4 separate regions of the Homo sapiens genome follow, and all the other regions are linked to region 1. The links come from fine-mapping of genetic effects on gene expression. A gene starts in region 1. Each other region holds a variant in brackets. All regions are shown on one strand. Distances are between the middles of the regions. Region 1 holds the start of KRT77 (keratin 77). Region 2 overlaps KRT4 (keratin 4). Region 3 overlaps KRT1 (keratin 1). Region 4 has its middle 12 kb from the start of KRT2.

Region 1 (8,106 bases):
TGTTGGCATTGAATGCTGAAAGCTGATCATAGACAGAGATCAAAGAAGCTTCCTAAACTCTGCTGTCCGGGACTTCCTTTTTTATGTTATCACAATGGAATATTTTCACATTCAGCATGACAGTATATAGAAACCTGGGCGAGTGCTGAACAAATTCCACTCAAAGACATTGCTGGAGCCCTCTGTGACCGAAGCCAAACTCAGGCCTCAGGGTTTCCCAGTTGCTCCCTCGAGGCAAGGGGGCCTCTTCATGGCTCCCCCATCCCACCCCCTCACATGCCCGTTCCTTTCTCTAGGCCTTGGCACGAGCAGTTTCTCTGGTCCTTCCCAGTCCCAGTCCCTACAACAGAGCACCCTCTCACTGGCCTACAGTACATCCTTCGAGGTTAGCTTGAGCTTGCCTTTGCTTCTGTGAAGCCTTTTCCAGCTGCCTGTCTTTCTAAAAACTCTCATCGCATTCATAGGTCTCAATGCTGTAGCCACAGCCACACAATAACACCTCTCGTAAGAGCAAGCCTTTTAAAATATTTGTTGTCTTCAAGTGCTCTATTTAAGGGTCAGATGAATAGCGTTCAGGGAACTCAGTGATTAGTTCAATCATAAAACTGGTACATGGGGGGAGCTGGGCTTTAACTCCAGGGGCACTTAATTGTGGGGCCCAAGCTCTTGGTTCTCTAAGCTGTCCACGTCTCTTTACTTTAGCTCAGTCATGAAGGCCTTTGTTATTGGCCCACTCTGCCCAGCAGTTGCAGGAAGAAAGGGGCTCCTGGTCCATGAAGTCTTGTCCCAACAGCAAGGAGCTTCCTGTTTGTTTAGGTGGCAGTAGAGACAGATGCGAAGGGGTTAATTATGTGTATTCTTCATGAGGAGGAGGTGGGGTTGAAAGTGAGTGGTGCAGCCGGAGAGAGAGGTGGGTTCACAGGGAGGGGTTGGGGAACAGAACCTCACTTGTGTGACTCCTTGGGGCTTGCAAAGTGCTCTTCCATATTTGTTCATAGCCATTCATTACTATCACTCTACAAAGCTGTTATTTTATATATATATATATTTTGAGACAGAGTCTCCCTCTGTTGCCCAGGCTGGAGCACAGTGGCGCCATCTCGGCTCACTGCAACCCCTACCTCCCAGGTTCAAGCGATTCTCCTGCCTCAGCCTCCGAAGTAGCTGGGATTATATATTTTTGTGTTTTTAGTAGAGACGAGGTTTCACTATGTTGGCCAGGCTGGTCTCAAAACTCCTGACCTCAGGTGAGCCACCCACCTCTGCCTCCAAAAGTGCTGGGATTACAGGTGTGAGCCACTGTGCCCGCCTGGTTACTATTTTCTTTATTTTAGAGGTCAGGAAACTGAGGTTCAAGGAGTCAAGTGTCCCAGCCATGGGGCTAGGAGGGGGCGGAGCCAGGAGTCAGAGCTGGGTTTCAAGATGCCCAACTCAAGGATCTGTTCGCCACACCACTGCTGTTTCCTGTCTGGTACTTACTGTCCCTTCTCCTATCAGCCCCCATTTTCTCAGCCAGACCCCTACTTCTTCCCCCTGCTCTGTTCTTTCTGCCTCTCCTCTGATATCTGACTCAGAATCCTGGTCTTCAGGCAGCTTTCTCACATGAACCCACCCCTTTCCCTAGCTTCACCTCTCTTTCCTTCCTCTGCTTCTACTGGTTCTCTCCTTGTCACTCTGTGCTGGAGGCTAGGCCCTGGCTTCCCTCTCTTACCTTAGGGTTAGGAGTATGGCTGTGTGGACCATAGGTGCCTAGGACTAGGGTGACCAACTGTTCTGATTTGCCCAGGTATATCTTGGTTTAAGTACTGAAAATCCTAGGCAAAGCAGGACAGCTGTCATCCCACCAGGATCTGTGAGCAGCTATTTCTGCTTGTTTAGTGATTCCAGTGCTCTGCTTTTTTCTCCCCACATGACTTATATATAGCTTTGAATCCTTGAGAAATAGACACTTTGGTTCCTTAAGTGTCTGAGAGGCTCTAGGTTCCTTAAGTGTCTGAGGCTCTAGACACAACCAGCAAGCAGCAGAGCTTCTGCCTATAAATTTCAGGCTCATTGTCTCCTCTATCACACAGTGTCTCCTGGATGACCCACTGAACAGATACCATGTACGGAATGCAGAGGTTCATGAGAAGAGGGTGTGGAAGCTTGGAATTGCCCTTGGAGCATTTCCCTGTACCAGGATGACTTTTCACTGCGGCGCCCCCACAGTGCTCTTGTTTCTACCACCTGTTCTTCCCCACCTCTATTGGGATTTCTGCCACAACTTTCTTTTTTTTTTTGAGGTGGAGTTTCACTCTTGTTGCCCAGGCTAGAGTGCAATGGTGCAATCTCGGCTCACCACAACCTCTGCCTCTTGGGTTCAAGTGATTCTACTGCCTCAGCCTCCCAAGTGGCTGGGATTACAGATGTGCCACCATGCCCGGCTAATTTTTTGTATTTTTAGTAGAGATGGCATTCTCCATGTTGGTCAGGCTGGTCTCGAACTCCTAACCTCAGGTGATCCGCCTGCCTTGGCTTCCAAAAGTGCTGGGATTAAAGGCGTGAGCAAAAAATATTTATTGCAATGAACATAAAGAAAAAGGACATTTAAAACACCAGGAAAATTCAGCCGGGCACAGTAGCTCACGCCTGTAATCCCAGCACTTTGGGAGGCTGAGGCAGGTGGATCACCTGAGGTCAGGAGTTCTAGACCAGGCTGGCCAATATGGTGAAACCCTGTCTTTATTAAAAATACAAAAAATTAGCCAGGCGTGGTGGTAGGCACCTGCAATCCCAGTTACTCAGGAGGCTGAGACAGGAGAATCGCTTGAACCCAGGAGGCAGAGGTTGCAGCGAGCCAAGATTGTGCCACTGCACTCCAGCCAGGGCAACAGTGCAAGACTCTGTCTCAAAAAAATAAGCAAACAAACAAAAGAACCTAGGAAAACTCCTCCCACAGTCTCTAAATAAATCAACTCACTTTCTAGTTACTCACAAAGTCTGTCTTATCTGCATTTTTTTTTTTTTTTTTGAGAGAGGGTCTCATTCTCTTGCCCAGGCTGGAGTGCAGTGGCACGATAAGGGCTCACTGCAGCCTTGACCTCCCAGGCTCAAGTGATCCTCCTACCTCAGCCCCCCTGACCCGTGGGAGCTGGGACTACAGGAGTGTGCTACCACACCTGGTTAATTTTTTGTATTTTCAGTAGAGATGGGGTTTCGCCATATTGGCCAGGCTGGTTTTGAACTCCTGGGCTCAAGTGATCTGCTTGCCTTGGCCTCCCACAGTGCTGGGATTACAGGAGTGAGCTATTGCACCCGGCCTTCTGCATTCTTAATTCTTATGAGTTCACAGCGCAGACTCCATCATGTAGTCTGCCCTTTCCCTTTAATATGGTACATAGTATCACAAGTGGTTGCCGGTTCTGCTGCAGAGTCTCCAACAAGATGATTTAAAATAATTGTATCCAATTGGGCAAGCCATCGCTTAGCCATTTTTCTAAGGCTGGAGAGTTTTTCCCCAAGTTAAAAAAATTATTATTACATTTTGGATGAAAGCCACAGCTATTTGAGTCCAGAGGGAAAACGCACATTTTTTTGTTGGCGGACACTGATGCTCACTGAATGAGCTTTTCCCCAGGATGCTGTCTGGGACGTGCTTCTCAGAGGGTGAGCACAGATTAGTGCTGGTCTACCGTGCTTTGCTATTGCCTTGTGGTAAGCACAGAATTTGAGAGTAACCATTTAGAAAATTATTATTATTGTTGCTATTTTTAGCAGTTAAACAATGTTTTGTTTGCTGAATCTAAAAATAAAAAAAATTTGGGCTTGCATTTTGTATATCTTTTTTAAAAAATTATCTTTAGGAGGTAATTCCTTTAATTCTATTTTACAAAAGTATTGTCTATAAAGAACCGGAAATGATAAAACAGAAAGAGAGATAGTTAGGGATGGTTTGTCTTCTGGTCTAGAAGACAATATTAGGTACTGGTAGATGCTCAACAAATCTATAACCACAGACTTTTGGTGCTGAAGTACCTTGTGTGGTTTTGTGTTTGAGAAGTCTGAGGCTTATCAAGCAGCACACAATGTGAATGACCTTGGGCAGAATCTGTGGGCCTCCACTTGTACTCAGTGACCACAATATTGCACTTCCATGTGATAAAATTTTGGGTGCTCATGGTGATGATAACTGCAGGGAGCAGAAGCAGTGTGTGGGGAGATTGGAACAAAACTTTTGCCCCACCAGGACGATGCTGTGACAGAAAGTGTTTCCACCTCTGTCCCAGCTATGGTCCTGAGGTCTCTAAACACCATCTAACTTTGCCCCAGATCTCCCAGGCACATCCCAGAAACAAACAACTCGATGGTGGAGTTTCTTAGGAAGAGATGAACTGATGATTTGGGGAGAATCTGTATAGAAGTTTCCAGCAATGAGATCCTGAGAGATTCTTGCATTCTGATCTCTAAATGGCAAGAGATGAATGATAAATGATCGAGTTGGGGAAGTTTGTCTGCAATCTGATTTCTGCAACTCACAGGTGTGAGGTTTTAAACAGATGTTGCTGGCAGGCAAACTAAACATTAATACTCCCCTTTCAGGATTGTAAAGGTGCCCAGCCCAGTAATGTGTGTGTGTGTGTATATATATAGAGCCGGAGCCAGATCTTTTCAAAGGAGTCAGAGCTCCTTTCCTCTCTGGTCTCTGCCTCCTTCCTGCCAGGCTCTTTCTCTTGCCTGCTTCTCTGGATGCTCCAGCAAACATGAGCCACCAATTTAGTTCTCAGTCCGCGTTTAGTTCAATGAGCAGGCGGGTTTATAGTACCAGCTCTTCTGCAGGCTCTGGTGGTGGGAGTCCGGCAGTGGGTTCTGTGTGTTATGCTCGAGGGAGGTGTGGTGGTGGTGGATATGGGATCCATGGAAGGGGGTTTGGCTCTAGGAGCCTCTACAATCTGGGTGGCAGTAGAAGCATCTCCATTAATCTAATGGGGAGGAGCACCAGTGGTTTCTGCCAGGGTGGGGGAGTAGGGGGATTTGGAGGGGGCAGAGGCTTTGGGGTTGGCAGCACCGGGGCTGGTGGCTTTGGAGGAGGTGGTTTTGGGGGTGCTGGATTTGGGACTAGCAATTTTGGGCTTGGGGGCTTTGGTCCTTATTGTCCTCCTGGGGGCATCCAAGAGGTGACCATTAACCAGAGCCTCCTAGAGCCACTTCACCTGGAGGTGGACCCTGAAATTCAGAGGATCAAGACCCAGGAGCGGGAGCAGATTATGGTTCTCAACAACAAGTTTGCCTCCTTCATTGACAAGGTGAGCACCTCAGGGGCAGGGAGGGTCATTGGTCACTGACCAAATGACTGAGAGAGATTACACCTTACCACCTCTCACCACATCGTGCTGTTTCAGCTTGACCTGGGACCTTAGAAAATCATTTACCCATTTGGGCTTCAATTTGTCTTCTTGCAGGGATTTAATTCCATCTTTTCCTTTTGGCAGGAAAGGAGATAAGCAGTGTTAAAATACTCAACAGATACATGGTGTAGTACCCTCATTCTCATTCATAATTATTCACTTTCCATCCACCCATCCACCCATGCACCCATCTATCCATCCCCATCCACACAATCCATTTATACACACACACACAAACACACACACACACACACACACACACATCCATCCATTCACTTATTCATCAATCCACCCAACTATCCACCCTTCCGTCCATCCATCCATCCACCCACCCATCCACACAATCCATTTATACACACACACACACACATGCACACACACACACGTGTTCATCTGTTCATTCACTCATCCATCAATCCATTCAACTATCCACTCATGCATCCATCCACCCATCTAGCCCACAAATATTTTCTAAGAATCTATGATAGGCCAGACATCGTGCCAGGTGCTACAGGTGACTAGGACACAGGTCCTGCCATCAAGGAGCCCACGTCTAAAGGGGAGAGAATTACTACAGTGTATGTGAAGTGTGTCAATAGGGGTAGTACTCTCTGGGCCATGGTAGCTCAAAGGAGGGTGTCATGAGCTCTGCTTGCTGAGTCTGGAAGGCGGATGAAAAGTTAAATGGGTTCTAATTTTAGTATATGTGCTGCCGAAGTGAGCACGAGTTAAATGGGTTCTCAGGGCAGAGGGGATTTTCAGGCAGAAGGACCAGGAGGCATGAAAGCGTGACGCGTTTAGGGAATTTCAAACAGTTACAATTCCTGGAGAAAATGGGATACCAAGGGGTGGAGGAGAGAAGTGGAGATGAAGCCACAGAGCCAGGGCAGGAGAAGCAGGCAGGGCATGGTGAATGCCCTGGTGGTGGGTATCTCTTGGGGCTAAAGTCAATAGCATGCAATGTAGGGTTCTGTCTGAGTTTCCCCTTTTGGCTCATCAAGGGCCAAGGATGGGCCAGATGGAGACACAGAAGCCCCTGTCCCTAGTTCCCTGTTGAAACTTCAGATTAGGTCCAAAGCAGCAGCAGAGGCTGGAGAACTCGCCATGGTGAAGACCTCCCTCCAGCATCTCCTTTTGTCTGGAGGTCGAGGCACAGCGGCCACTAGCACCTCCCCAGGAGGAACTTTGCCTTCAGGGATGCAGTGGGAAGCCCCACAGAGCACCAAGGCCGCTTGCACACTCAGTGACTTTCCCTCAGTCCCCACGGGAGTTCAGTGCTGAGGCCAGAGCTTGACCTGTGGCCTGACTGCAGGGTAGCTGTGGCTAGAGGCCATACTGGGTGGCAGGGCAGGCCTCTGATATCTGAGCAGATGCTGGGGATGGGACAGTGTGTGAGCGGGCGGAGGAGGGTGAGAGTGCTGAGGCCCAGAGGCTGCCGAAGAGGAGCGCAACACAGCAGCGTGCTCCCGTGGCTTCCGATCATGCTGCGTGGGAAATTTGGCTGAGTATCACCACGCTTCAGGCAAAGGCAGGGGTTAGAGGGTTTCACTGGAGCAAGGAGTCACTACTCGGAGGTCACGGCTGGGCCAAGAGAGGAGCAGGGAGGAGAAAGGGCTGGGAAATGACCACAGGCCGCTGGCAACTGACCTCCTGAGGCTCATCTGATTATGGCCCCTGCCATGAACAGGGTCTGTCCAGTTGCATGGCATAGGGCAGTGGGCAGAGGCTAGGGTGCAAGAGACCTGGGCCTCCTGTCCTTCGAAGGGCATGGCCTATGATGACTATGAGGAGAGGCTTCTCAGCCAGGTGGGCTGTGGCCTGGCTGGAAGGAAGAAGGCTTCTATGACAGGTGACTTCTGACTCTGCTTTCCAAACTGGTCTTCCTGCTTTCACCCTTGACCCTGTATAGCCTATACTTGACACCACAGCAGAGCCATCCTTTAAAAGCATGTCACGACACTCCTCCATTTGAATCCTCCAGTGGCTTCTTGTCTCGACTGAAAGAAAAGCCCAAGTCCTACAAGGCCCTATATTACTTGCCCTTCAACCCGCAGCTGCTGCTAAGCCCACACTTGCATTTGTGGAATCAGGCCACGTTGCCCTCACTGGGTGGAACAGCTTTCGGGATACAATGGCTAGTAAGCAGAGTGAGGCCTGGAAAACAGCCCCCAGGCTTCCAACTCATTGTTGTCTGCAGCCTCCTGTGCCCCTCTGCCTCCTCTCCTGCTCTCTTCTTGCTCACCAGCATCCAAGGCTCAGTTCTGTCTCAAGGTCTTTGCACCTACCATTCCCTCTGCATGGAACTCTTCCCCCGAGAGAGAGGCCCACCTTCCTCCCTCACCTTCTGTGGGTCTTTGCTCAGATGCCACAGTTTCAGTGGGGCCTTCCCTGACCACCACTTCAGTGTTCCTATGCCCCGGCCCTGTGTGACTCCATAGTCCCTGCAGCCATCTGAGGCACTGTATTTTTTACATGATTATTTCTTTATAGTAATCTCTCTAAATAGAATGCAAACTCCTGGAAAGCAGGGATTTTGCCTGTTTTTTTTATTACCAAATCCCTAGCACCCAGAATAGTGCCTGACATATGAGAATTGCTCAATAAATAGAAACCGGATGACAAATTGGGTCAGCCCCTCAGGGGTCAGTGCTGGACGCTCAGAGAGTGGAAATGGAGCCAAAGGCTTTCTAGAACCAATGACAAGGGGACAGGGCCTCAGAAA
Region 2 (8,106 bases), 100 kb before region 1:
GTATTCTATTGTGTATATGTATCATATTTTCTTTATCCAATCATCTGTTGATGGACACTTAGGTTGATTTGGTATCTTTGCTATTGTGAATTGTGCTGCGATAAACATGAGTGCAGGTATCCTTTTGTTACAATGATTTCTTTTCCTTTGAGTGGAATTCCAGCACTGGGATTGCTGGATCCAATGGTAGTTCTATTTTTAGTTCTTTGAGAGATCTCCATACTGTTAGAATAGCCTATTTGGATAATCAACTTCCATGTCTTCAGGTGGCTCTAGGGAAGAATATATAAAATAATTGGTCTCCCACCAGCTCCCCTGCTGCTGAGTAGTCTTTCCTAAATGCTGCTGAGAACACCTGTCGGTGTCACTTAGTAACCCGTCCTCCTACTGGCATTCCTGCTCCTCATCTCTTATCCTCCTTACTCCTCTGCAGGACGTGGATGCTGCCTACCTGAACAAGGTGGAGTTGGAGGCCAAGGTGGACAGTCTTAATGACGAGATCAACTTCCTGAAGGTCCTCTATGATGCGGTGAGGGCTCCATCCTCCCCTCCATCCAGGGAAAGGGAATCCCCCATCTGTGACGCTGCTGGTTGGGATTCACAGTTTTTTGAAAGGACTCCAGCTCCCTTATTTTAGGGCAGTGGGTTCTCATCAAGGTCATGCATAGAAAGGTTTGAAGTGGGAAATTCAACTGGGAGATTCTTAGAACCAGATGTGGTCTTGGTCTTAGACGGGGTGATTAGATCTAAAGAGTGCTTGGAATAGAATTCATTGCTGTCTAGCATTTTTTTTCTGGTGAAATGGATCCATTCCCTTCCCTTCCATTCCAACACACCGGCACTCACTGCATTAGAGTGGCTTATGGTTCCTGGGGACCAGTAAAGACTAGAAGCATTGCTCTTCCATCCTGAACTGTCACAACCACTTGATTTCTCCTTAGAACTTTACCTGTCTCTCCCCTTCCTACACATTGTGAATGCCAGCTCTGCTCCTACTTGAGCCTGTATCAGGTCAGTGAAGGCTTTCCTGGGGGGGCTGATGTGAGACATTTGCCCTGCAGGAGCTGTCCCAGATGCAGACCCATGTCAGCGACACGTCCGTGGTCCTTTCCATGGACAACAACCGCAACCTGGACCTGGACAGCATTATTGCCGAGGTCCGTGCCCAGTACGAGGAGATTGCCCAGAGGAGCAAGGCTGAGGCTGAAGCCCTGTACCAGACCAAGGTGGGTGGTATGGATCTCTCAGGAGATGGGGCTGGCTCTGGGGCTCTGCTTTTGATGTCTGTGAACAGGTGATCATTAGCTCAAGCCCAATAGAAGTCAGATATGAACAGACTCTCCCAGGCATCGTTGGTCCTGGTCTGATTTGAAACTACTTGACATTTGGTGCTATTCTTGCCACCTGTGGCAATTCTCACTGAGTTCACTTGAGAATGGACCCTACCCAAATGCCCCTAACACCTGGTTCTCTGTGTCTTCTTGAGTCTTAGGTCCAGCAGCTCCAGATCTCGGTTGACCAACATGGTGACAACCTGAAGAACACCAAGAGTGAAATTGCAGAGCTCAACAGGATGATCCAGAGGCTGCGGGCAGAGATCGAGAACATCAAGAAGCAGGTGGGTGTCACTCCCTTCCAGATGGAGCACAAGGCCAGGGGCCTCAGGCAGACATCTCCAGAGTGGACAAGCAGATAAAGCATCAGGCCAGAAGACCCTGAGCTTGTTGCTGGGAATTCATAGCTCTTTGTGCAAGGCATACCCAGATTTTTTCAGCAATATCCTAGTTGGCACACCATGACGCTCCTGTGCATAGGTTTCTTGGCTCTTCTTCATGGGTTTTTGCTCATTTTTATTTAATCAGTCTGGTGGAGGCATTGGTGGGCTATGGCTGGAGTGAATGAGATGCATAAGTCTCAGGGAAAGTGGGCAGAACAGATAGAATCTTGACATCCTAACCCAAGGAAAGCTGGACCAGGGGAGGGGACAGGTGTAGAGGCCTTGAAGGCAGGGCACTGCTGACCACCTATCTAATGCCTTTGTCAATAGTGCCAGACTCTTCAGGTATCCGTGGCTGATGCAGAGCAGCGAGGTGAGAATGCCCTTAAAGATGCCCACAGCAAGCGCGTAGAGCTGGAGGCTGCCCTGCAGCAGGCCAAGGAGGAGCTGGCACGAATGCTGCGTGAGTACCAGGAGCTCATGAGTGTGAAGCTGGCCTTGGACATCGAGATCGCCACCTACCGCAAACTGCTGGAGGGCGAGGAGTACAGGTGAGGGGTTAGGCAGGGTGTGAACATGAGGGCCAGAGAGGTCCAGGGCCATGAGCTTATTTATGCCTCTGCCGGGCTGCAAGCATCAGTGTTGTGCCGGTGCATTACGAACCAGGACAGCTCAGCTAATAGGTTCACACTGGGCCCTCAAACTCAGAGGCTGCTCAAGGATAAGAGAGGTGAGTGAGGCATGCTTATTGAACAAAATTCTGTGCTCCCTGAGGCTCACCGCCTTTTCTTTCCCCTACAGAATGTCTGGAGAATGCCAGAGTGCCGTGAGCATCTGTAAGTACCTTCCACGCCTGCTGTAGTTGTTCATTCACCCGGGTCTTGCCAGACCCCTGGGGTGCTGGCAGCATTGGAATAACTGTGTCTTTTGTGTCTTTTCTGCAGCTGTGGTCAGCGGTAGCACCAGCACTGGAGGCATCAGCGGAGGATTAGGAAGTGGCTCCGGGTTTGGCCTGAGTAGTGGCTTTGGCTCCGGCTCTGGAAGTGGCTTTGGGTTTGGTGGCAGTGTCTCTGGCAGTTCCAGCAGCAAGATCATCTCTACCACCACCCTGAACAAGAGACGATAGAGGAGACGAGGTCCCTGCAGCTCACTGTGTCCAGCTGGGCCCAGCACTGGTGTCTCTGTGCTTCCTTCACTTCACCTCCATCCTCTGTCTCTGGGGCTCATCTTACTAGTATCCCCTCCACTATCCCATGGGCTCTCTCTGCCCCAGGATGATCTTCTGTGCTGGGACAGGGACTCTGCCTCTTGGAGTTTGGTAGCTACTTCTTGATTTGGGCCTGGTGACCCACCTGGAATGGGAAGGATGTCAGCTGACCTCTCACCTCCCATGGACAGAGAAGAAAATGACCAGGAGTGTCATCTCCAGAATTATTGGGGTCACATATGTCCCTTCCCAGTCCAATGCCATCTCCCACTAGATCCTGTATTATCCATCTACATCAGAACCAAACTACTTCTCCAACACCCGGCAGCACTTGGCCCTGCAAGCTTAGGATGAGAACCACTTAGTGTCCCATTCTACTCCTCTCATTCCCTCTTATCCATCTGCAGGTGAATCTTCAATAAAATGCTTTTGTCATTCATTCTGAGCAATGGTCTTTTTTCCCTGGGGAGAGGTCTCTAGAATCCTGTATAACTAGATAATTTTGGTGAAGGTGTATGCTTGCGGGTGTGAAGGATCTGTTTATACAGATCTGGGTCATCGACTAGTTTCTCAGGTCTCTACTTCTAAGTTACTCAAATTATTGGGGGAGAAGTACAGTGTACAGAGGCTGAAGGTTGCCTACAGGGCAGTTGTACAGATTGAAGGGGCATCCAACAATTATACACACATTGTCCATTGTAGGGCACCCTGGGGTAGCACCATTTCAATGCTGATCCTGGAATAAACCTGGAGGGAAGGGGTTTAAGTCTGCAGGTGGGGGGCATTTGATAGGTGTGAGAGAAGCAGGCCAGGGGTCTCTGCTGAATATAGAGCAAGAAGTTATGGAGCTTATGAGAGTGCTTATACTCTGTGTCTAGCAAGGCCTCCCTATTTTCATGAAATTCCATGCATGGGGCTAAATCTCACTGGCCCAACAAGGCTTTCAGGAACCTGTTCCAAGAATCAACAAGGTCACGGTTGTTGGAGGGAGGTGTGCATGTGTGTCATTCTCCTAGAGTTTTCATGAGCTGCTCACTT[C/T]CCCAGCTCCTCAGGGGTGCCTGGGGTTATGTCTGTGGTGCTGTCCCTGAGTGGCGAAGAATGTTGGAGGTGGAGCAGGTCTTCTGGAGCAGGAGTGGAGGGAGCTGTCTAATTACAGAAGCGGGGAGAGGACAGTCAGAGGTGGGGGTCTGGGTAGATTTGGGGACACCCTTTTTCTATATTGGACCAATTCCAAGTACCTGGAGCAGCACAGTCTCCCCTCTTCCAAAGATTTCCCAGCTCCTGCTCTGCAGTCTGACTCGAATCAGTTTGCTGCAGATGCAGAATGCACTCTCTGCCTTGGCCACCCTACTGTGCCTCCCACCCTTGACTGCCGCAGAGTTCATTCAGACTCCAGTTCCTCCAGCCCTGTGTCCATGGGGCCTCATGGTGTGCAGGCAGAAAGGCACGTCGTTTGCCCAAGACCAGTCCTTGCCCATGGGAGTCTCGTGCAGATCCAAGGTAGGCTCAGGGTTGTTCTGCCTTTGGGAAAGCGGGGACAGAGTAGCAAAGGGTTAATCTCAGGGGCTTGTGCTCTCTGGGCAGGGGACTTTGCCAGGAGCAACCTGGGCTCTGTCCTTCATCAGCCTGGCCCTAATATCCCCATTGTCTTAGGGCTCATTGAGCCCCATGTGTCAGAACAGGAAGTCTCTGCAGCTGCATTTGGTGGCTTTGGCTTCTTCCAAGGGCTGCACTCCTCCCCTGGCAAAATGCAGATGGGCTCTTTTTTTTTTTTTTTTTTGAGTTTCTGGGAGTGGTGAGGAGGAGTTAAAGGTTGGAACTAGGGGTGGAGCTTCTCAGGTTCACCCACCAGGAGGCTGCAGGTTGTGTTGGGCCTCACAGAGAGGCAAGGGGCAGGTTAAAGCATTTCTCATGCCCCCTGAGTGTGGGAGCAGCCAGCCTGAGCAGCCCTCCGTGCCTCTCAGCATCTCTTTGGTTGAACTCAGTGATTTACACTGCAAGGTCAGGCCGTAGATTATACGCGTGTATGTGCATCTTAGAATAAATGTGTTTGTATTCATAGGCACATGGCTATGTGAGTGTGTCAGCGTTTCTTATTTATATAAAAAGTCTCTTAGGTCGGGCACGGTGGCTCACACCTGTAATCCCAGCATTTTGGGAGGCCAAGGGGGGCGGATCATGAGGTCAACAGATCGAGACCATCCTGGCCAACATGGTGAAATCTCGTCTCTATTAAAAATACAAAAATTAGCCTGGTGTGGTGGCAGGCGCCTATAATCCCAGCTACTCGGGAGGCTGAGGCAGGAGAATCCCTTGAACCCAGGAAGCAGAGGTTGCAGTGAGCCGAGATCACACCACTGCACTCCAGCCTGGCGACAGAGTGAGACTCTGTCTCAAAAAAAAGTCTTCTATTTTACATAAAAAGGAAAAGCCCTCATGTTGGTCTCTGTTTCTAGAACAGTCCAGGAGAGTGGATCCTGGCCTTGATTCATATGTTTGAAACTGGCTGGCTAGTCAGAGGGGATTATTTGGGGTAAATATACTGCTGAGATAATAGACACCACCCTTCTCTCTGATCCTTCGAATTGGATTCTGGCCAGCTCCTAGTGCTTAGGAAACAGGGAGACATGGCTTGCATTATTTACCCCGTTGGAGGCCCCATGCTCTCCCTTTTCTTTTAAATCCTTTACCTCTAAGTATACGGAAATCACTTTTCACATCTGAAGAGCCCAACTGCAGGTTGGCAAATCTCTAACTTGGTTTATTTGGCTCATCTGCCCTGACTCCATTCCCCAAGATCTTGGCTCCCAGCCCTGGCTGCAGCCCCACCATCACTTTGGCTCAGGCACCTGTCAACTCCTGAACAACTGCTATGTTTGCATAGATCCCTCCCACCTCACCAAGACCCTCCGCTCTGGGTTCAGCCCTCTCAGTTCCAGAAAGTTCTCACCAATACTTCTGAAGTCTCCCTACCTCGTTGCTAGTAAACCCAGAAGGTTATAGCAAAGAGGGGCTTATTTCATGTCCCACTGTGGGGTTTTGTTTTAACTTGCTGACGGGGCCCAGGCTTTGTGTTCTAAGACCAGAGGACCTCAGAATAAGGCATGGCTGCTCCCATGTCTTGGGTGGATGTTCAGGGTTTAGTGAGACAGCTACGTGGGGAAATAGTTGAGGGGGCTGTGCCCCCTTTGTGGGCCCTCAGGACATGGTAACAGTGGGCCAACGAGGGACAAAGGGAGGGAGCAGGCTGAAAGGAAAAAAGCCATTTTAGCACCTGTTCCATTTTTTTTCCCGTGTTGATGGTAGGGTCTGAACAGTCATCTCGTTATTCCACTAAGAGGGCTGGGAGTGTAGAGTTGTGGCCATGAAGGGTCTTGGTGGTGGGAGCCCCAGGACTCAGGCTCATTGCTGCCCATGGTTTTCTGGTTTGGCTTTGGGTCAAGGTAGGATTGTTCTGCATCTGCAGTTTTTTTACTTTGAGTGTTGTGGATTTGATCCTTAAAAATTCGAGAAAGTGGGTGAGAAGCTAGATAAGCTGGGAAGACATTTTCTGGAGAAAGTGTTTGGACTGTCATTTGCCATCCACCCATTCATCCATCTACTCATCCATCCGTCCATCCATCCATCCATCCATCCATCCATCTATGATCCATCCATCATCCATCTATTCATCCATCCATCCACCCAGCCATTCACTCATTTACTCAACAAACCACTAGTCTATAAATTATTTATGGGCAGGAACCATGACTTTATTCATCTTGACATTCCAGGGCCACTGTGCTTGCCATATAGTAGCTGTTTAACAAATGTTAATTGAACAATGTTTACCAAGTGCCTAGTTTGTGCTGGGCAATGGGGACCCATTATACAAAGAAGAATTAGACTCTGTTTTCAAGGAGCTTTTAATACAGATGATAATGTCTAGATAAAAGCATGCACATAAAGAACTTGGTAACCAGACAGACAGATGAATGCCTTTGGAAGTTACAAATGAAGGACATGACAGTCCAGAGGGTAGCAAAATTACTTCTAGTCTAGAGTGAGGGGTTGGCAATCACAGGAGGCTTCATGCAGGAGGCGGTATTGAAGTGGGGTCTTGAGGAAGAAGCAGGCCCTAGATGCTAGAGACAGGGCAGGTGCTCTTCTTACAGAGGGCAAGATTCTGATACCTAAGAGGAGTCCTTTCGTCTAGAAGTCTTCTAGGAGTGGCTCCACCCCTTTGGAATATCCTGCTGTTCTGTCTCCCTTAGGCCTCCTCATACTGGATTTTGGTCACACTCCTTTTTCTGTGTCGTGTCCTGTGAAGCTGCAGCATTTCTCCCATCGGGCTGGTAGCTCCTTCTCCTGTGAATCCACCACCCAAGAGCACGGCAGGGGCAGTTGCTTCAGTTCGAGAAGCATTGTTGAGCACCTACATTGTGTCAGACTCTGTGTAGGGCCATGAGGATATAAAGCTTATTGCAGCGTGGTCCTCACCCTTGAGAAGGGCAGAGTTTAATGTGAAAATGGTGAGTGAGTGTGGGGAGTGTAGACACATTAAATACACATTTTCCATACTTTCAGGAAAATGTTAAAAGCAATGGTGTATGCAAGCACTGAGACTCTGGAAGCCTAAGGGAGAATCATTTGCTTTTGCCAGGGATTCAAGGAAGTCTCCCTGGAGGAGGTGACAGCTGTGAAGTCAGCCATGTAAAAGGGGTGTGGACCTGGAGCTTGCAAGAGGGGTGCAGGGGAACAGGGTGCTCTAGGCAGCAAGAATTGCAGAGTAAAGACAGGGAAGTGTGGCTCAGTGCAGTACCAAACCAAAAGCAGCTTAGCATCACTCAAGACAGGGCAGGGAGTGGTGGGAGAGGACGCTAGAGAGCAAGGTTGAGGCCAGGATGTGGAGGGCATGGGTTGGCCCATTGTCCAATTTGTTTGGGGTTTGGGCTTTATGTTCTAAGACTAGACAAGCTCAGAACAAGGCGTGTCTGAGAGATTAAGCTCAGAAATGGATGAGGAGATAGCTCTGGGCCACCTGCTCTCAGGGTGTGGCCTGGAGGCCCATGATGTGCTTTGAATTGCAGTCTGGGAACCACCACTCTGCACCTCCCTCCCCTGCCACGCAGCTGTAATGCTAAGCCTTGCCATGGCCATGCCTCCTTTCCCACTCTTGTTTCCTATGAGGGTATGTTTCCAG
Region 3 (8,106 bases), 29 kb after region 1:
TGGTACTGGATGAGGCTAGAGTTTTTTTATACTAATATCTCCAAAAATCAGCTCTAAAAAACTCAGATAAACCATTTTTTTAATTTTTTGCTTAATCATTAATAGTGCCAATCCAAGGTTATCCACAACAAATTTCAAATCCAATTTTGAATTTTCCTGATATACTTTTGAAATGTGTGTGTGTCCTGGGGATGCAAACCAGTTTTTATGGTAATATACCTAACAAAATTTTGGAAGGCAAATCTCTTAAATACCATGCACCTATTTCAAAACATAATTGCAATAATTCTGTATGCGCTTTGCTATTGGTATTTGTTTAGTTACTCCCTTCCAAGCCCTCTCTGAATTAACAAGTTGGGTTTTATTATGCAGATGATATTAACTTGATCATCTTCTTCCTATTTCTCTGTCATGGTCAGAAGATAGGAATTGAGGTTCTTTTCCAAATGAGGCACAGTTCTCCATGGCTATGAGACTCCATTTATGCATCAGGAGTAAAGGGGTCTTGTGTTTTTAGGTGAGGTTCCTGGAGCAGCAGAACCAGGTACTGCAAACAAAATGGGAGCTGCTGCAGCAGGTAGATACCTCCACTAGAACCCATAATTTAGAGCCCTACTTTGAGTCATTCATCAACAATCTCCGAAGGAGAGTGGACCAACTGAAGAGTGATCAATCTCGGTTGGATTCGGAACTGAAGAACATGCAGGACATGGTGGAGGATTACCGGAACAAGTAAGGGACCCTGTCTGGGCAGTTCTTAACTTTTGCTGTAAAAGAGTTCCAGAAAGTAATAAGCTAAGATCATGAAGCAGCATGTAGCTATGTCTTTTCTTAGGTTAGAGGCACATCAGTTTGACATTTTCAGAAATCTTCATTTTCTCAGGAGATGGAAATAGTCTAGTGGTTTTATTGCTCAGTAGAAAGTAGTGGCCAATATGTCCTAGGTTCATAATAGAAAGGCAGTGATAGGCAATGCCACCTTTAGTTTAGAATGCTGGACTTCAGGTCTTACCACCTCTGAATCTCCTAATTGTTTCTGCTTTCCTGCAGGTATGAGGATGAAATCAACAAGCGGACAAATGCAGAGAATGAATTTGTGACCATCAAGAAGGTAAGCAAATTCTGTAGGACGGAACTCACATTTGAAATAAATAAGGGAAGAGGGTCTCCAATTACTAAGCAGAAAGCAGCCATGATATGGAGAGCCAGGTAGTAGACCTGGGGAGTATATGGAGTGGGGCTATATTTTCACATCATCATGGACCTGGACTGATCCAGGCACTTGGCTTCTCCATATTTCCCAGCACCTTACATAGTAAGTGGAGTGGCAGATTCTCAGCAAGCCAGGCACACTCCCTTGATGGTGCTATCCGGGGGTGGGACAGTTAGGGAACTGTGATTTACCTGGGGCAAAAAGGAGTGGAGTAGACCCAAAGCTCCTTTTTTTGCTTGGAGAATCCCCTCACAGGTAATGAGAGGGACCTGCCCTGGAGAGAATGTGCCTTCATGATGTCCCTTGTTCCTCTAGGATGTGGATGGTGCTTATATGACCAAGGTGGACCTTCAGGCCAAACTTGACAACTTGCAGCAGGAAATTGATTTCCTTACAGCACTCTACCAAGCAGTAAGTCTTCCAGTTTCAACCAAGTTTATCTAAATGGAGAGTTTTTAAGCCTGAACCCACAACGATTCAGAAGAATAGATATTTATCTTTTATTTTCTGACTGCTTTCTCTGTCTAAGTTGTTTTTTGTTTTAGTGCTGTAAGAGTCACTAACCTATTATGTCTTGCAGGAGTTGTCTCAGATGCAGACTCAAATCAGTGAAACTAATGTCATCCTCTCTATGGACAACAACCGCAGTCTCGACCTGGACAGCATCATTGCTGAGGTCAAGGCCCAGTACGAGGATATAGCCCAGAAGAGCAAAGCTGAGGCCGAGTCCTTGTACCAGAGCAAGGTGAGTGGGCTGAAAGCCTAGCCAGTTTCCCTGAAATGGCTTGTCTTGCTATCCTGTGTTATCTCATGTATGTGTGCCTGTGCCATGCTGAGTTCTGCCTACATTTAACAAACGCTATCTACCATCTTTAGTATGAAGAGCTGCAGATCACTGCTGGCAGACATGGGGATAGTGTGAGAAATTCAAAGATAGAAATTTCTGAGCTGAATCGTGTGATCCAGAGACTTAGATCTGAAATCGACAATGTCAAGAAGCAGGTATGTGCTTTCTCCTTCTACCACTCAGCTGTATGGAATGGGGGTAACCCTCAGGTAAAGGGCGAGTGCTTTCCTAGTTTTGAATCTTGCAATTCATCCCAAGGCTACATTATTATCCCTGGTTCCTTTTGTGACTATGCTAGTTTCCAGAATGCAGCCATCATGCTGGGTTCTCTTTAGGGAAATCTGTGAGAATGGCCTAGTAGAGAAAGATGGGATGGTCAATGTGAGTGATCTAGCCTATGACCCAAAGTGGACTTAAGAGTTGGGGAGTGAGAGGAAGGGCAGCCAGGAGGTTTTAGAGTAGGTGTTTAGAAGAATGTCAAGTCTGTAAGGGTTGTAGGAGCCTTGACTCAGGGCCAAGAGAGGCTGTTGAGTTATCCCTAAGGTCTTTTAAGGAAGTCAACATGGTGATGTGTTATCTGGAGGTGGGTGTGAGATGACTTAAGGCCAAGTGGTTCTGTTGGACTCATTATTGGCCTCACTGGAGTGGGGAGACCAATTGGGATGAGGAGGCCTAGTGGGGAATGCATATTATGAGAGGGTGTCATATTCTTTTTCAGATCTCCAACTTGCAGCAGTCCATCAGTGATGCAGAGCAGCGTGGCGAGAATGCCCTCAAGGATGCCAAGAACAAGCTGAATGACCTGGAGGATGCCCTGCAGCAGGCCAAGGAAGACCTGGCCCGCCTGCTGCGCGACTACCAGGAGCTGATGAACACAAAGCTGGCCCTGGATCTGGAGATTGCCACCTACAGGACCCTCCTGGAGGGAGAAGAAAGCAGGTGAGGAAGGGACGCTGGGAGTCGAACCTCTTCTCATGGTCTTCCTTCCTTGCAAGCTGATTGTTGTTGAAGATGCAGCCATCTGATTGCAGCTTGTGCTGGGTATGGGGAAATGAAAAGTACACGGAGCAGGAGGAAGGACCTAGTTTTACTTTGGGAGCTGGAGTCCCAAGCTGTTTATTTTTTTCTTCTAGGGCTGTAACATATCTAGAAAGAGCTTTGAGGTGGAGCAAATTATTCTTTATCTGGGCTGCCTCAGATGGCAGCTGGCCTAAAGTCGGCATCTTTAGAG[G/A]GGGCCTTCATTGGCTGCAAGGCTCTTGTCTCGTTTATATGGGAATTTCTCCGTGTTTGTACTCTTGCTGAGAAAAAATGACAGGTCTGGGAGGCCAGAGGGGATTGGATTAAGTTTCAGATTAAGTGCATTGGAGAAGACCCAGATGGGGAAAGTCTTCAAGGTGGTGGAGCGGGGAATGGGGAAGCGGTTTGGGAAGCTGGAGTGTCCTGAGGAATTTTCTTATTTTCTCCTACAGGATGTCTGGAGAATGTGCCCCGAACGTGAGTGTGTGTAAGTACAAGTCGATTTCTCAGGGGCATGTGCAGGCTTTGTTGGGCTGGAAACGGAGTTGAGGTTGAAAATAACTGAGCTTCCTCTTGCAGCTGTGAGCACAAGCCACACCACCATCAGTGGAGGTGGCAGCCGAGGAGGTGGCGGCGGTGGCTACGGCTCTGGAGGTAGCAGCTATGGCTCCGGAGGTGGTAGCTATGGTTCTGGAGGTGGCGGCGGCGGCGGCCGTGGCAGCTATGGCTCCGGAGGTAGCAGCTACGGCTCCGGAGGTGGCAGCTATGGCTCTGGAGGTGGCGGCGGCGGCCATGGCAGCTACGGCTCCGGAAGCAGCAGTGGGGGCTACAGAGGTGGCTCTGGAGGCGGCGGCGGCGGCAGCTCTGGCGGCCGGGGCTCTGGCGGCGGGAGCTCTGGAGGCTCCATAGGAGGCCGGGGATCCAGCTCTGGGGGTGTCAAGTCCTCTGGTGGCAGTTCCAGCGTGAAGTTTGTTTCTACCACTTATTCCGGAGTAACCAGATAAAGAGATGCCCTCTGTTTCATTAGCTCTAGTTCTCCCCCAGCATCACTAACAAATATGCTTGGCAAGACCGAGGTCGATTTGTCCCAGCCTTACCGGAGAAAAGAGCTATGGTTAGTTACACTAGCTCATCCTATTCCCCCAGCTCTTTCTTTTCTGCTGTTTCCCAATGAAGTTTTCAGATCAGTGGCAATCTCAGTCCCCTGGCTATGACCCTGCTTTGTTCTTTCCCTGAGAAACAGTTCAGCAGTGACCACCACCCACATGACATTTCAAAGCACCTCCTTAAGCCAGCCAGAGTAGGACCAGTTAGACCCAGGGTGTGGACAGCTCCTTAGCATCTTATCTCTGTGCTGTTTTGGTTTTGTACATAAGGTGTAAGCAAGTTGTTTTTCTTTTGTGGAGAGGTCTTAAACTCCCCATTTCCTTGTTTTGCTGCAATAAACTGCATTTGAAATTCTCCATGTCTCGATCGCCCTTGTTTACGGCACTGTCTAACCTGGATGGGTGTTTTGTGAGGTAAAAGAAGACACTAGAGCCACATGGCATATGGGAAAGTCATGCACACAAACATGAGAAAAATGCAGAGGCCAACCAGGCAACATTTCACCAGACTGGAATCACAGAGAGAGCAAGCACTTTCCCAGATGGTGGGGATGTCATGGAGAAATGGAGAGACCGGGTGACAGGTTTTGTTCATTTGAGAAGGCTTTCTTGAAAAGGGCAGTGAGCAAGCAGGTTGGGAGGAAGAGGTGTGGCATTGAGAAGAAGGGAAAGTATTGCATGAAAAAGTAATTCTTCACGTGGAACAGCCAGTAAGGAGGGGCATGAGTAATATAGGGTCAGCAGTTACTGGAGCCAGAATACAGACTTTGGCCTGGGGAGTTCAAGAACTAAGAGTGGTAATAGAGAGTTGGATATTCCATTTCCCTTCTCTTTTTGTGCCACCACCCAAAGCTCTGCATAATCTAAGAAGTTCCCTTGTTGACACATAGCTCATACTTGTGAAGTTGTACAACAGGATAGCATAGTGGCCAGAAGCATGGACAGTTGAACTCAGATATGCTTGGGTTTGAATCTTACCATCACCATTTACTAGTTCTGTAATACAGTGCAAGTTACAGACATCTCTGCACCTCAGTTTTAGTATGTCTAAATTGGGGATGATAATGCCTTCCTTGTGGGAATAGTGTGAGGATTGAATAAGATGAATACACAGGGCTGAGCACACAGCAAGCACTAAATAAGTGCCAGTTTTAATGATAATGGTGATGATGATGATGATGATGATGATGACGTAACATTGCTTGTGGGACTCCATACAGCTCAGTAGATGCTTGCTCAAAGAAGCAAGTTACCAAAATTTTTGTAATGGTTCTCTGAACGTGAAAAAAGCAGTCAACTTCTCTGAGGATCAATTTCCTTAGTTTCCAATTAGGAAAAGTCTTCTTAGCTCCAGAGTCCCACAGGGCTAATGGAATAAGGAGAGGATAGATCACACATGTATTATGCAAACACAACTCAGGTGAGCTCTATTCTTCCTTCTCAGTTATCCCTTCTGTAGGGACCCCAGTGTCCCCTGCTGTCTTTCTGTGTCCTGACCGGGAAACACAGTGTGCCTTGTCTACTCCATCACTTGGCCAGCTGCATGCTTTCCTTTGCAGGCTTGAAGCAAAGCTGGGTCTCGGGCATTCTCAGGCACTGACAAAGCTGTTTAGTTGTTGCTGGGAAACACTGGGAAATAGCCCTTTTGTTAAACACACAGAAACTAGCCTTCGCCCTGAGCCAAATTCCTTAAACTCGTCTATGAAATTCCATAACCTGACTCCTTAACTGCAGACATACCCAGCTAGAACATCCCTCATGTCCCTGTCCACCGTGAGAATGCTGCACTTCACTCTGAACCTTTAGTCCTCCTTTTAAATACTGCACACTGATCACCCTGGTGTTTAGTGCTTTGTTTTTTGGAATCCCACCTGGCTCCATTTTGGGATGGTTCCGGGCACTTCCCTATGGAAATTCCCCTGCTGTCACTGTCAGAGTGAGTCCAGCAGTGGGTTTAGCTGGATGAAACACCACCATGTCCATTTCCATTCAGACTAATGTCAGAATTTGAAAGGCACTATGGTAGAGTAGAAAGAACAAGGAACTGTACTATTTAAAGGGCAGGCAAAGAAAAGGCATCTATAGCTTATAAGATGTGTGGATCTTTGGATGTGACTTGGCCATCCTGAGCCTAAGTTGTCTTGTAGGAGAAATGGGAATGAGAATATTTTCCTCTAGACATCAAGAGGAAAAGAAATATAACGTGAAAACCTTTGTGAATTGTGAATGTGTTATACAGAGTAGCTAAAAGAATTAAAAAGGGAGTGACAAAAAAGTAAAAGGCAGCTGGCTGCTCAGGGCCTCCATGGAGGGAAGTACCTTGATATGGTCACTGTGGCTCAGTGACAGCTCTGCAGGGACAGGAAATTGATTTGTTAGTGCACCCAAAGTTGAATCTGCTCCTGAGTACTGATTTATGGGAACCAAACACACAAGAGATGAAGGATGTGTCAACCAGAATGTCCAGCATTAGCTTGTGGGGAAACACATACTTCCAGTGACTGAAATACCATCCTGTTATCAAGAGATCTGGGAAACTAAAGTACTGACAAGAGCTGGCTTGATCTGTGGATTTAGAACAATGAGAGTTAGGTGGCCTTGAGGGAGATGATTCACTCTCCTTCACAGAAGAGCTGACCTCTGGGGTCAACAGATATAGCACCTCTTTCCCAGGGACGCTACTGAATGAACAGTGATGTGTTCTTATACTCTGGCCCAGATTTTCTACATACTTTCTTAGGTTACAACTTTATTTAGTCACATTTCAGTACTGGGGATACTCCTGTTTATCTTCTTTGGACTCGAGTTTTTATGGGAAGGTCATGAAACAGAGAAAAATACAATTTGCAGGGAAACTTACCAAGGCTTGTAAGGTTACAAGGATTAAATGAAAACCCTGTGTAAGTCAGTATATAGTGAAGAAGTAAATTGAGTTAGACCAAACGCCAAAATGCATCCACATTAGAAAGACGATAAAGGAAGACTCTGGATTCAGTTCTGTTCAAAAAACATTTTCTGCACAAATACTATGTATGAGGAACTGGGCGTTGGGGAGATGATGATGAGTGAGACATGGTTCTTGCTTTCAGAGAGCCTAGAGACCTGGGTGGTAGCAATGGTAGAGATACATCCAAGACACAGAAATAGATATACAGGAACACAGATGATTGAAAGTGATGCTTGGCAGGGCTTTAAAGAATGAATCAGAGTTTTTCAGGCAGACGAGGATCTTCAAGGCAGAGGGAATCATATAGATAAGGACATAGAAGAGTGAAATTTCATGAAGTAGTTAAGCATCTGAAGAAGCATGGAATTAGTGACAAGAAATGATGCGGAAAAGATATCCAGATCCAATCAAGAAGGGCCTTGTTGGCATTCTATGGAGTCTGGACTTTGGCTTCTGGGTCACAAGTTCTCAGATGGGGTTTTCATATCTATTATTAGACCTACTATGTACTGGTCCAGTGGAAGGGAAAGGGGTTGTCTTACTGCTAGTGGAGTAGGAATTGGGTATGGACCACAGCTTGTCTTGTTTCCAAGTATTCCCTAAGAAATCTGGTCTGCTGATGGGAGATCTATTTATGGAAATGTCTTTTTCCCTCAGGAATTTTATGTCAGAAACAGCTGTCATAGGTGAGGAGGAACTGGTAAAAGTACTTAATAGGAGAGTGTCATGGTCAGATTGGTGTTTTGGAAAAGTCAGCCAGGGCAGATTGGAGAGGTCCATATTGGAGGCAGGAAGACTTAAGAGACTATTGCAAAGGTGAAGACAAAAGACGATAGGGACTTGCACTTTAATTCCAGCCCTTAGAAGTAGTAGAAGGTCAGAAATGAGAATATGCATTACAGAGATAGTTAGTTGCTATATCATTAGGACTTGGTGATAGATTGGATGAGGATGCGGTTGGGTGAGGCAAAGAGGA
Region 4 (8,106 bases), 40 kb after region 1:
TAGGGTCCAGATTTGGGTAGGTGGCGGGGAGGAAGTGGCACTATAGGCCCCTTCCCTGGTGAAGGGGGCATGGATAATAGTCTGACTACAGTTAGAGGCCAGAAACGTGGTCTCTAAAGTTGCCTCTTGGAGCCGCAGTGGGCTGGAGCCTTGTGCTGGGTGAAAGGGAGAGTGAAGATGCCCACGAGATGTCTGGGCGGTGCCAGCAAATTTATTTGTTTGTTGAAAGGTTGGATCCTCAGAATGCCCTGGGATGCTCTGTGTCACCGTGTTTGCCACTCCCATATCTGCTGGAGGGAACCTGACACTCCCTGCCAATCCATTATCAGAAATATGGCGCAGTCTTAGTCAACTTGCGACCTTCCCAAGTTCATGCGGGTTTATCCCCACCCCTCCCAGGGGCCCACGCCCGATTTCCAATCTGTCAATAGGCCCTGCGTATTCTCTCTAGGCAGTATGGAGTGTCCTCTGCTGGTACAAAGGCTTCTCTACATGCAATGATGGTACCTGTGATGGTCACCACAACGCAGCGGCTCCCAGGGAGGGTGAGGATGAAGATTACATCCTTTGGATATTTCAGAAAGCTTACTGGGAAAAATAGAAACAAAAAGACTTCTCTTGATTCTGTTCACAAGTTGCAAAGACATAAGGAAGCAGCTAAATCCTTCCTGATACAGAGAATCTTTGATCGTGGGAGAAAGCTCTTTTCTCTGGGTGTTGAGCTCAGTCCTGAGCATCTTGGAAGTTAAAGTGACCCATTGAAAAGCTAATGTGAGCACAGAGGCAAAAACTAGAGCAGAGAAAGGACTGGAAAAAAGATCAAGGAAGACGGCTGAGGGTGGGGTGTGATGATTTCTTTCTTTCTTTCCTTCCTTCCTTCCTTCTTTCTTTCCTTCCTTCCTTCCTTCTTTCTTTCCTTCCTTCCTTCCTCCCCCCTTCCCTTCCCTTCCCTTCCCTTCCCTTCCCTTCCCTCCCCTCCCCTCCCCTTCCCTCTCCTCCCCTTCCCTCCTTTTTCTTTCTTTCTTTCTTTCTTTCTTTCTTTCTTTCTTTCTTTCTTTCTTTCTTTCTTTCTTCCTTTCCTCTTTTTTTTTTTTTTTGAGACAGGGTGCTGTTCTGTTGCTCAGGCTGGAGTGTGGTGGCACAATCTCAGCTCACTGCAGCCTCAACCTCCCTGGGTGCAGGCGATCCTCCCACCTCAGCATTCCAAGTAGCTGAGACTACAGGCACACGCCACCACACCTAGCCAATTTTTGTTCTTTTTTAGAGATGGGGTTTTCCATGTTTTTTAGAGATGGGCTTATCATGAACTTCTGAGCTCAAGTGATCTACCAGCCTTGGCCTCCCAAAGTGCTAGGATTACAGGCGTGAACTACTGTACCTGGCCAATGGTCACTTTCAATGAAGATAAACCACACCATAGTTTGTAGGGAAGAGAGTCAGCCTCTTCTTGCTTGGAAGTTACAGGAGTCACTCTAAAGAAGAACTTTCACCCCGGCCCAGTTGCCCCACAGTGCAGGAGCTGTCTTGTGAGAGGAGTTAAGCTGACTTGGAGAAACAAGTAGAAGGGTCTTTCCCAAGGCAAGGGCACTTGAGCAGAGAGTCCAGCCCTGGTTCGGAAATTGGACCACTTCCAACCTGGAGATCCCAAGGCTGCCTTCTTTCCCCATTCTCCTTACAAGTCCTCCAGATTCTTCTTTCTCTTTTTTTTTTCCTTCCCAAGATTCCCAGACTCAACTCCCAGAATATTTTGAGCAGTTATTTTAAAAAGCATAAAGGTTTGGTTCTGGTTTGAGCTGATCTTATAGGTGTTTTGGTGAACATTTATGTTTGTTCAGTTAAAAAATATTGGAGTTCAGTTCTTGAGCAGGGGTTGTTTATGGTGGATTTGGTTCAATCCTGGTCAATTTCCTGTTGTGTACACCCTGTGGGGGTGTTGACAGGCGGGGGTCTGTCATGAAGGAGAGGCCAGCCTGAGGCTGCACATGCAGCCCACCTGCCTCAGCCTCCCGAGTAGCTGGGACTACAGGCATGTGCCATCATGCCCGGTTGCCATGCAGTTCCTTATAGCTTTAGAAATTTTCCAGCTTTGAAGGAGCTATGTCTTCAGCCACCTCATAAGGATGTTTAAAGGGGAGGGGTGGGAAATAGTCCAAATGAAATTACTAGGATGTATTTTTTATCCTTACTGAAAAATTGCACAAACAGCATAGTAACCATATGAAAGAAAATTAAAATGAACAGAAAATTCACCTCAACTAAGAACTATTAAGTTTCCCTTTCCATTCTAGACCCTCTTCCTACGTAAAGATGAATGAATGCAGCTGTAACCAGAAAGTAAGTATAATTATTAGCATGTATTTTAATATTGATCATTAACATTTTCTTCAAGGTCCAGCTAAATGCCAGAACTTCTGTGACTCCTTCTCTCTCCCGTGGGGAAAAAAACATTCTTTTGTGTTCCCATCCCATTTTGCCTGCCTGTGTCCTGGCATTAATAACATAATATAGGTAGCTGCAAGTATGTCTGTTCCAATGATTTGTGTTGTCCTAAATGGGTGAGTGGGTGGGGGGCATGCCTTATTTATTTCTGATTATTTCCGACAAAATGGGTTAAGAATCCCGCAACAAAACAACACATGGGGTCCTTCATTTTGGGCCCCTTGGGTGAGGAATGTTGTCCTAGAAAAGCACATTCAAAGGTCTGAAATGTGCATTTATTGGCTCTACTGGGTGTCTTTTCACCTGCCTAGACCATATTTCCTTCGGTAAAGGGGTTATAATGGAGCTGTCTCTGGCAGGCTGAGTTCAACTGGCCATCAGGAGTAGCTATGTCTGACCAATCCTGGGCCAGGGAGGGCCCTTGGTGACCATACCTACCTAGCGAGACAAGTAACTAGCAAGGTGAGCGGATAGGGACTGGGAGGATTTAGGGCCCAATCTCTTAGGAAAGACCTCAGGGGGTAGCAGTTCTCCTAAGTGGGGTCCCTGGGTGGGGTGGGAATATAGTCTATCACATGCTTCACCAGTGGAGAATTTCTGATGGGGCGAAAGTGGATGTCACAACAGTAGGTCCTAGGAGAACTGGACAGGGAAAGCTAAGTCAGGATGGCCTCGCCTCTGAGGTCTTTCTAGGGATGCCCTGGGATTCTTGACTTCAGCAAGTGCCTTACTTTTTACTAGGGAGATGAGCAAAGGGCCGTCGAAATTCAGCCACAGCCATAGACAGGTGCTGCCAGCTATGCCCTTGGGACGAGTGGCCTTTGGGATAGAAGACTGGGTGTCATCTCTTTAAGACCTGTCCTTAAGGTCACCAAATATAGAACAGGATGATTAAACATGCATGAGGACATCTGACCTTAGTTTAAAACCTTGTTTGGTATGATTTCTCCTCAAGACAGCTGTCCTTTGCCCAGACACCTACAGACATAGAGAAGATTCTCCTGAGGTTGCATGGGACAGAGGCCGGGCCCTGTTGGGGTGAGCTGGATGGAGGCAGGCTGGAGGCAGGTGGCAGG[G/A]CCATCAGAGTCCCGGCTGAGAACGTGCACAGGACACCTGTCATGGGCATCTGTTAGAGGTTGAGTGTCAACCAGTTTCTCATCTGGGTCAGGCTTAGGGGAGAGGGTACTGTCATTCTCCAAATACACCAAACTTTTACACATGTTTATGCTGTTAGGTCTTTGCAAATGTCTCTCCATTTTCCTGGAGTTCCTTTCTCCCTTTTCTGTGTGTAGACTCGAATTCATCCTTTAAAAGCCAGTTCATAGTTCCTCCTTCCTTGACTCCTGCCTCACTTTTCCATTTATGTTTCCTTGCTTCTGGCATATGATGTCCAGCGGTGTCCTGGAACCCTCCCGCACCAGCTTATGAAAGCCAATTGCCTGCTTTTGTTCCTAACTCCATGTTCAGTAACACCGTGTTGATTGCTTGAGATCAACCATGGTAGGTATATTTACTCCACAGAAATGAGTGCCTATGGAATAATGAATTTCTTGAGGACAAGGACTGTGTCTTCTTTACCTTTTCATCCTGAGGATGCAGCAGAATGTGTATTCTACTGCAGTGATTAGTGAGTTTTTGTTGGTCAATGAACTGGACAGAGTAAGCACTGGAGGAATACAGGAAGGAGGGGGCCACATCACACCAGGGTCATCAGTCAAGGGGAGAGAACATCTGAGTTGAGTTGGGTCTTGGAGGGTGGGTTGATGGTAATTTGGGTGAAGTAGGTGGGATCCCTGGGGATGTTACCAGTTCCAATGCAAGGGAACTCTTGTTTGGGAAGAAGATCCCGTGAGGCAAGCTCCATCTTGGCTTGTAGTCACCTGTCTGCATGCAGAGGTGTGCATGAGACAAGGTCTGAGGTGAGGCCATCTTGCCCCTTCCCTAGCTCTAGGTCCTTAATTAACCTCAATTATATGGACAGTGGGAAAGTGTGTGGCAAGGCAGGTTCTTAGCTTAGCTTTCCAGACCCAACAACCCAGACATTCCTACCCTCCACATTCCTACTCTGTATGCAATGGAGTAGTTGGTTAGTCCCTCTTGTTATCAGTCTTAAGTTTCTGCTAATGCCAGCACAGTTGATTTCCTTCTGTTCTACACCTGGTGGAGCTGGAAGAGCATTTTAGGCAAATGGAGAACATGATATCTGCCTCCATGTCCCTGAAGGAAGAACAAGCTGATCCTGTAGTTGTAACCATTCATTATTAGCATTCACAGATGAACATTTGGTTGTCTTCATTCACACTGTGCTAACTACTAAGGTGTGCTTGGGATCGGAGAAACCCCGCTGGGTTCCAAAGGGAGTGCCCTGTTTTTGGCTGCCTTCTTCTCAGTAATCCTCTCTCTTGGCTTGGTAATGGATAAACAAGGTTTCCATGATGAAGACATAAGGCTTTGAGGAAAGGTGGTGTGGCAGGAGCCTCATGCCACCTCATTGGCACTTCTGACCTGCCATGTGGCACCATGGAGGGGTGCACAGCTGGCAGGACCTGGGCAAATGCAGTCTGTCCTATAGCAGGACAGTCATCAAGCTGTGGTTACTAGGAGTCTGATAAAACAAGGATTGGACCATCTTGCCCCTGTAACCACCCTATTAGCTCCTTTCCTGGCCATCTGCAGGGATGTGAATAGGAGGAGCAGTTGGTCTGATGCCTTAACAGCCCTGGGGGAAGTGTGGCAATGACAGATTTAGAAGTTGTAAAGGACACAACTCCTATTTGCTTCCTATTTTCCATTATTATGGGTAATTGAGCGTTGACTGCAGTATTTATTAAGCCCCTGACTTTGGTCTACCTGAGGCCTTTTCTGGCTCTGAAATTCAGTGCTGTCAGGCTGGTGTGGCGAGGTGGAGGAGCTGCGGGGCTGGGCTCCTGCTCTGTTACCCTTTATTCATGAGGCCTTGACAAGCTCTGAACTCAGTGTCTTCATCTTAGAAATGAAGATGTCAGCCACAATGGTTTCTACCATGTCTTTGAGCTGTTAGCACAGATACCAGAGTAGGGTGGAGAACCTGTAGGAGGGCAGAGCACTCTCACTCAATCTTTGCATTGGGAACAGGGAATTAGGTGAATGAGGGTGGGGAGGGCAGAAGTGGGGCTCCCAGAAGGATGTGGTTTCTGAGTACGTTGGGCCAAGCCTTATCACCACTCGTCTTGTGATCTCAGGCAGGTCTCTTCACTCTCTCAGAGGCTCAGTTTGGTCATGTGTGAAATGAGATAACATTTGCCCTAATTACTTCAGAGGGAGAGTGTCAAAGTGAAATGACACATGCAACAGGGACCTGAAGTAATACATGAAGGGAGCGATCATCAGCACTGCTGCTCTTCCTTGAGAAGGCACCCAAGGGTGGGAGTGGGATGGGGCCAACGAGCAGCGGTGCAGCCTGGGTACGCAGGAAGGACTGCTTCCTTGGGGGCCAAAGTGGGGTCCTATGCTTCATTCTTTTAAAAGAAATACCCATTCATGAAGGGAGGGCTTATATCCTAAATCCATGGCCACTGGCCTTGTAATGAATGGCCACTTAGTGCCTGAGCAGGGAGCAGCGGACCACCAGTTGGGAGCAGGACCGGAGACAGCGGGGGAGCTCCAGGGCATAGGGTTAGGGTGGGCTTGTAAGCTAAGGAAAGAGGTGCATGATCAGGTGGCAAGATGCAGGCTAGGAGATTGTGGCAATAACATAAAATCGACGTAATGTTGGAAGTTCTAGACACTTACTATAACTTCTACAGATAATGCGAAAGGAGAAATATTTGCTTTGTGCTAGAAATTGTGCTGTGTCACATAAATCACTTATTTCACAGCAACTCTGAAGTACTACTGTTGACCTGTGAACAACCCAGATTTGAACTGCACCACTCCACTTATATGTGAATTCTTTTTCAGTAAATATGTTGGAAAAATTTTTGGAGATTTGTGACAATTTGAAAAAACTTGAAGATGAACTTGTATCCTAGAAACATAAAAAAATTAAAAAAAAGTTAGGCATGTCATAAATGCATAAAATATATGTAGATACTAGTCTATTTTATCACTTACTCCCATAAAATATACACAAATCTGTTATGAAAAGTTAAAATTTATCAAAATGTGTGCACACACGGACTCTACATAGTGCCAAAGTCAAGAGAAATGTAAGCAACTGTAAAGGTGCATTATTAAATCATAACTGCTTAAAATTAACTGTGATACATATGTGCTACTGTAATCATTTTGTAGCCACCTCCTGTTGCTACTTCAGTGATCTCAGGTATTGCCATTAAAACACTGTGTGATGCTAGTCATCTCCACAAGAGCAATTAGCTCCCCCAGTAAATTGCTTATAGCAGTAAAAAGTGATCTCTGGAGGTTCTCGCATATTTTTCATCATGTTTAGTGCTTTACAGTAAACCTTGAATAACACCATGGGACCCATGCAGAGTGGCACTAGTGATGCTGGAAGTGCTCCCAAGAAGCAGAGAAAAACCATGACATTACAAAAAAAAAAGCTGAATTGCTTGATATGTACCGTAGATTGAGGTCTGCAGCTGCAGTTGCCTGCCATTTCTGACATGATAGATAATTCATCTTGCAAACACATGATGTAAGCTTATGGTATTGATAGATACAGTACAGTACTGTAAACGTGTTTTCTCTCCTTATGATTTTCTTAACAACATTTTCTTTTCTCTAGCTTACTTTATTGTGAGAATACAGCAATAACATATATATAAAACAAACAAAATATATGTTGACTGCTTATGTTATCAATAAGGCCTCTGGTGAGCAGTAGGCTAATAGTAGTCAAGTTTTTAGGTAGTCAAAAGTTATATTGAATTTTCAACTGCAAGAGGGGTCATGCCCCCTAACCATTCGGTTGTTAAAAGGTCAACTCTACTGTTACCACCACTTTACAGATGAGGAAATGGAGGCCACAAAAGGGTAGGTAACATTTCCAAGGCCAAGAGGCCAATAAGTGGTGGGGCTGGGATTCAACCCAGGTGTGTTGGACAAATCCATGTCCTTAACCAGTACACAGGCGGCCTTTGCTTGTTACAAGGCACCATGCAAGGATAATTAATTGTGATATTAGGTTGGTGCAAAAATTATTGTGGTTTTGGCTATTACTTTTAATTACATTACTCAGCTTTTCTTCCTAAACAGAAGATCCCTCTCAATGTTTTCTCTTGGGATACTGTAGTCACTTTTTATATGAGGACAGAAGGCAAAGAAAAGACTCAGGGGACAGGCAGAGGGCCCAACAGCCCAGTGTTGGAAAGCCTGGGTTTTCCACCAGGGTAGAGCAGGGCAGGTCTGCCTTGAACCTGGCCTCAGAAGCTTCCTTCTCAGTCCTCTTTCCTTCCATCAGCCTGGGGAGAGTGATGAGGAGCTGTGCCCCCTGGTCCTTTGAAGGGACCCTGGTCATCTCTGGCAGGGCCTGCTGCTCCCCATCAATGCCAGGCAAAGAGCTGAGTGCCATGCGCTGCTGCTGAAACACCAGTGAGGAAACATAAACTGGCGTCTCCCAACCTCATCATCAGGTCTCACCCCAGTCCTGCCCCTCCCTTGCCTGGCAGTGCTCTTTCCTCTAGCTCTCAGAGGAACCAGGGGGAGCCTGCTCACCCCTTGACAGAC

The links.
Region 2: its variant is fine-mapped to the expression of KRT77 in whole blood (INTERVAL, PIP above 0.99).
Region 3: its variant is fine-mapped to the expression of KRT77 in whole blood (INTERVAL, PIP above 0.99).
Region 4: its variant is fine-mapped to the expression of KRT77 in whole blood (INTERVAL, PIP above 0.99).

The regions. Positions count from the first base shown.
Region 1 is chr12:52,700,068-52,708,173 of GRCh38, reverse strand. KRT77 (keratin 77) reads left to right here and starts at 4,650. Exons shown (of 9, transcript NM_175078.3): 1 at 4,650-5,282. The coding sequence starts at 4,740. RefSeq lists an enhancer at 6,408-6,577.
Region 2 is chr12:52,801,806-52,809,911 of GRCh38, reverse strand. KRT4 (keratin 4) reads left to right here. Exons shown (of 9, transcript NM_002272.4): 4 at 434-529; 5 at 1,062-1,226; 6 at 1,493-1,618; 7 at 2,048-2,268; 8 at 2,519-2,553; 9 at 2,662-3,363. The coding sequence ends at 2,843. Among named protein-coding and RNA genes, the nearest start is that of KRT4, 8.3 kb to the left of the region's middle. The variant C/T (reference allele first, on the strand shown) is at 3,963.
Region 3 is chr12:52,671,168-52,679,273 of GRCh38, reverse strand. It overlaps KRT1 (keratin 1), which reads left to right. Exons shown (of 9, transcript NM_006121.4): 2 at 518-732; 3 at 1,051-1,111; 4 at 1,529-1,624; 5 at 1,794-1,958; 6 at 2,090-2,215; 7 at 2,779-2,999; 8 at 3,530-3,564; 9 at 3,657-4,538. The coding sequence ends at 4,081. Among named protein-coding and RNA genes, the nearest start is that of KRT1, 5.2 kb to the left of the region's middle. RefSeq lists an enhancer at 3,874-4,374. The variant G/A (reference allele first, on the strand shown) is at 3,292.
Region 4 is chr12:52,660,048-52,668,153 of GRCh38, reverse strand. No RefSeq gene overlaps it. Among named protein-coding and RNA genes, the nearest start is that of KRT2, 12 kb to the right of the region's middle. The variant G/A (reference allele first, on the strand shown) is at 3,516.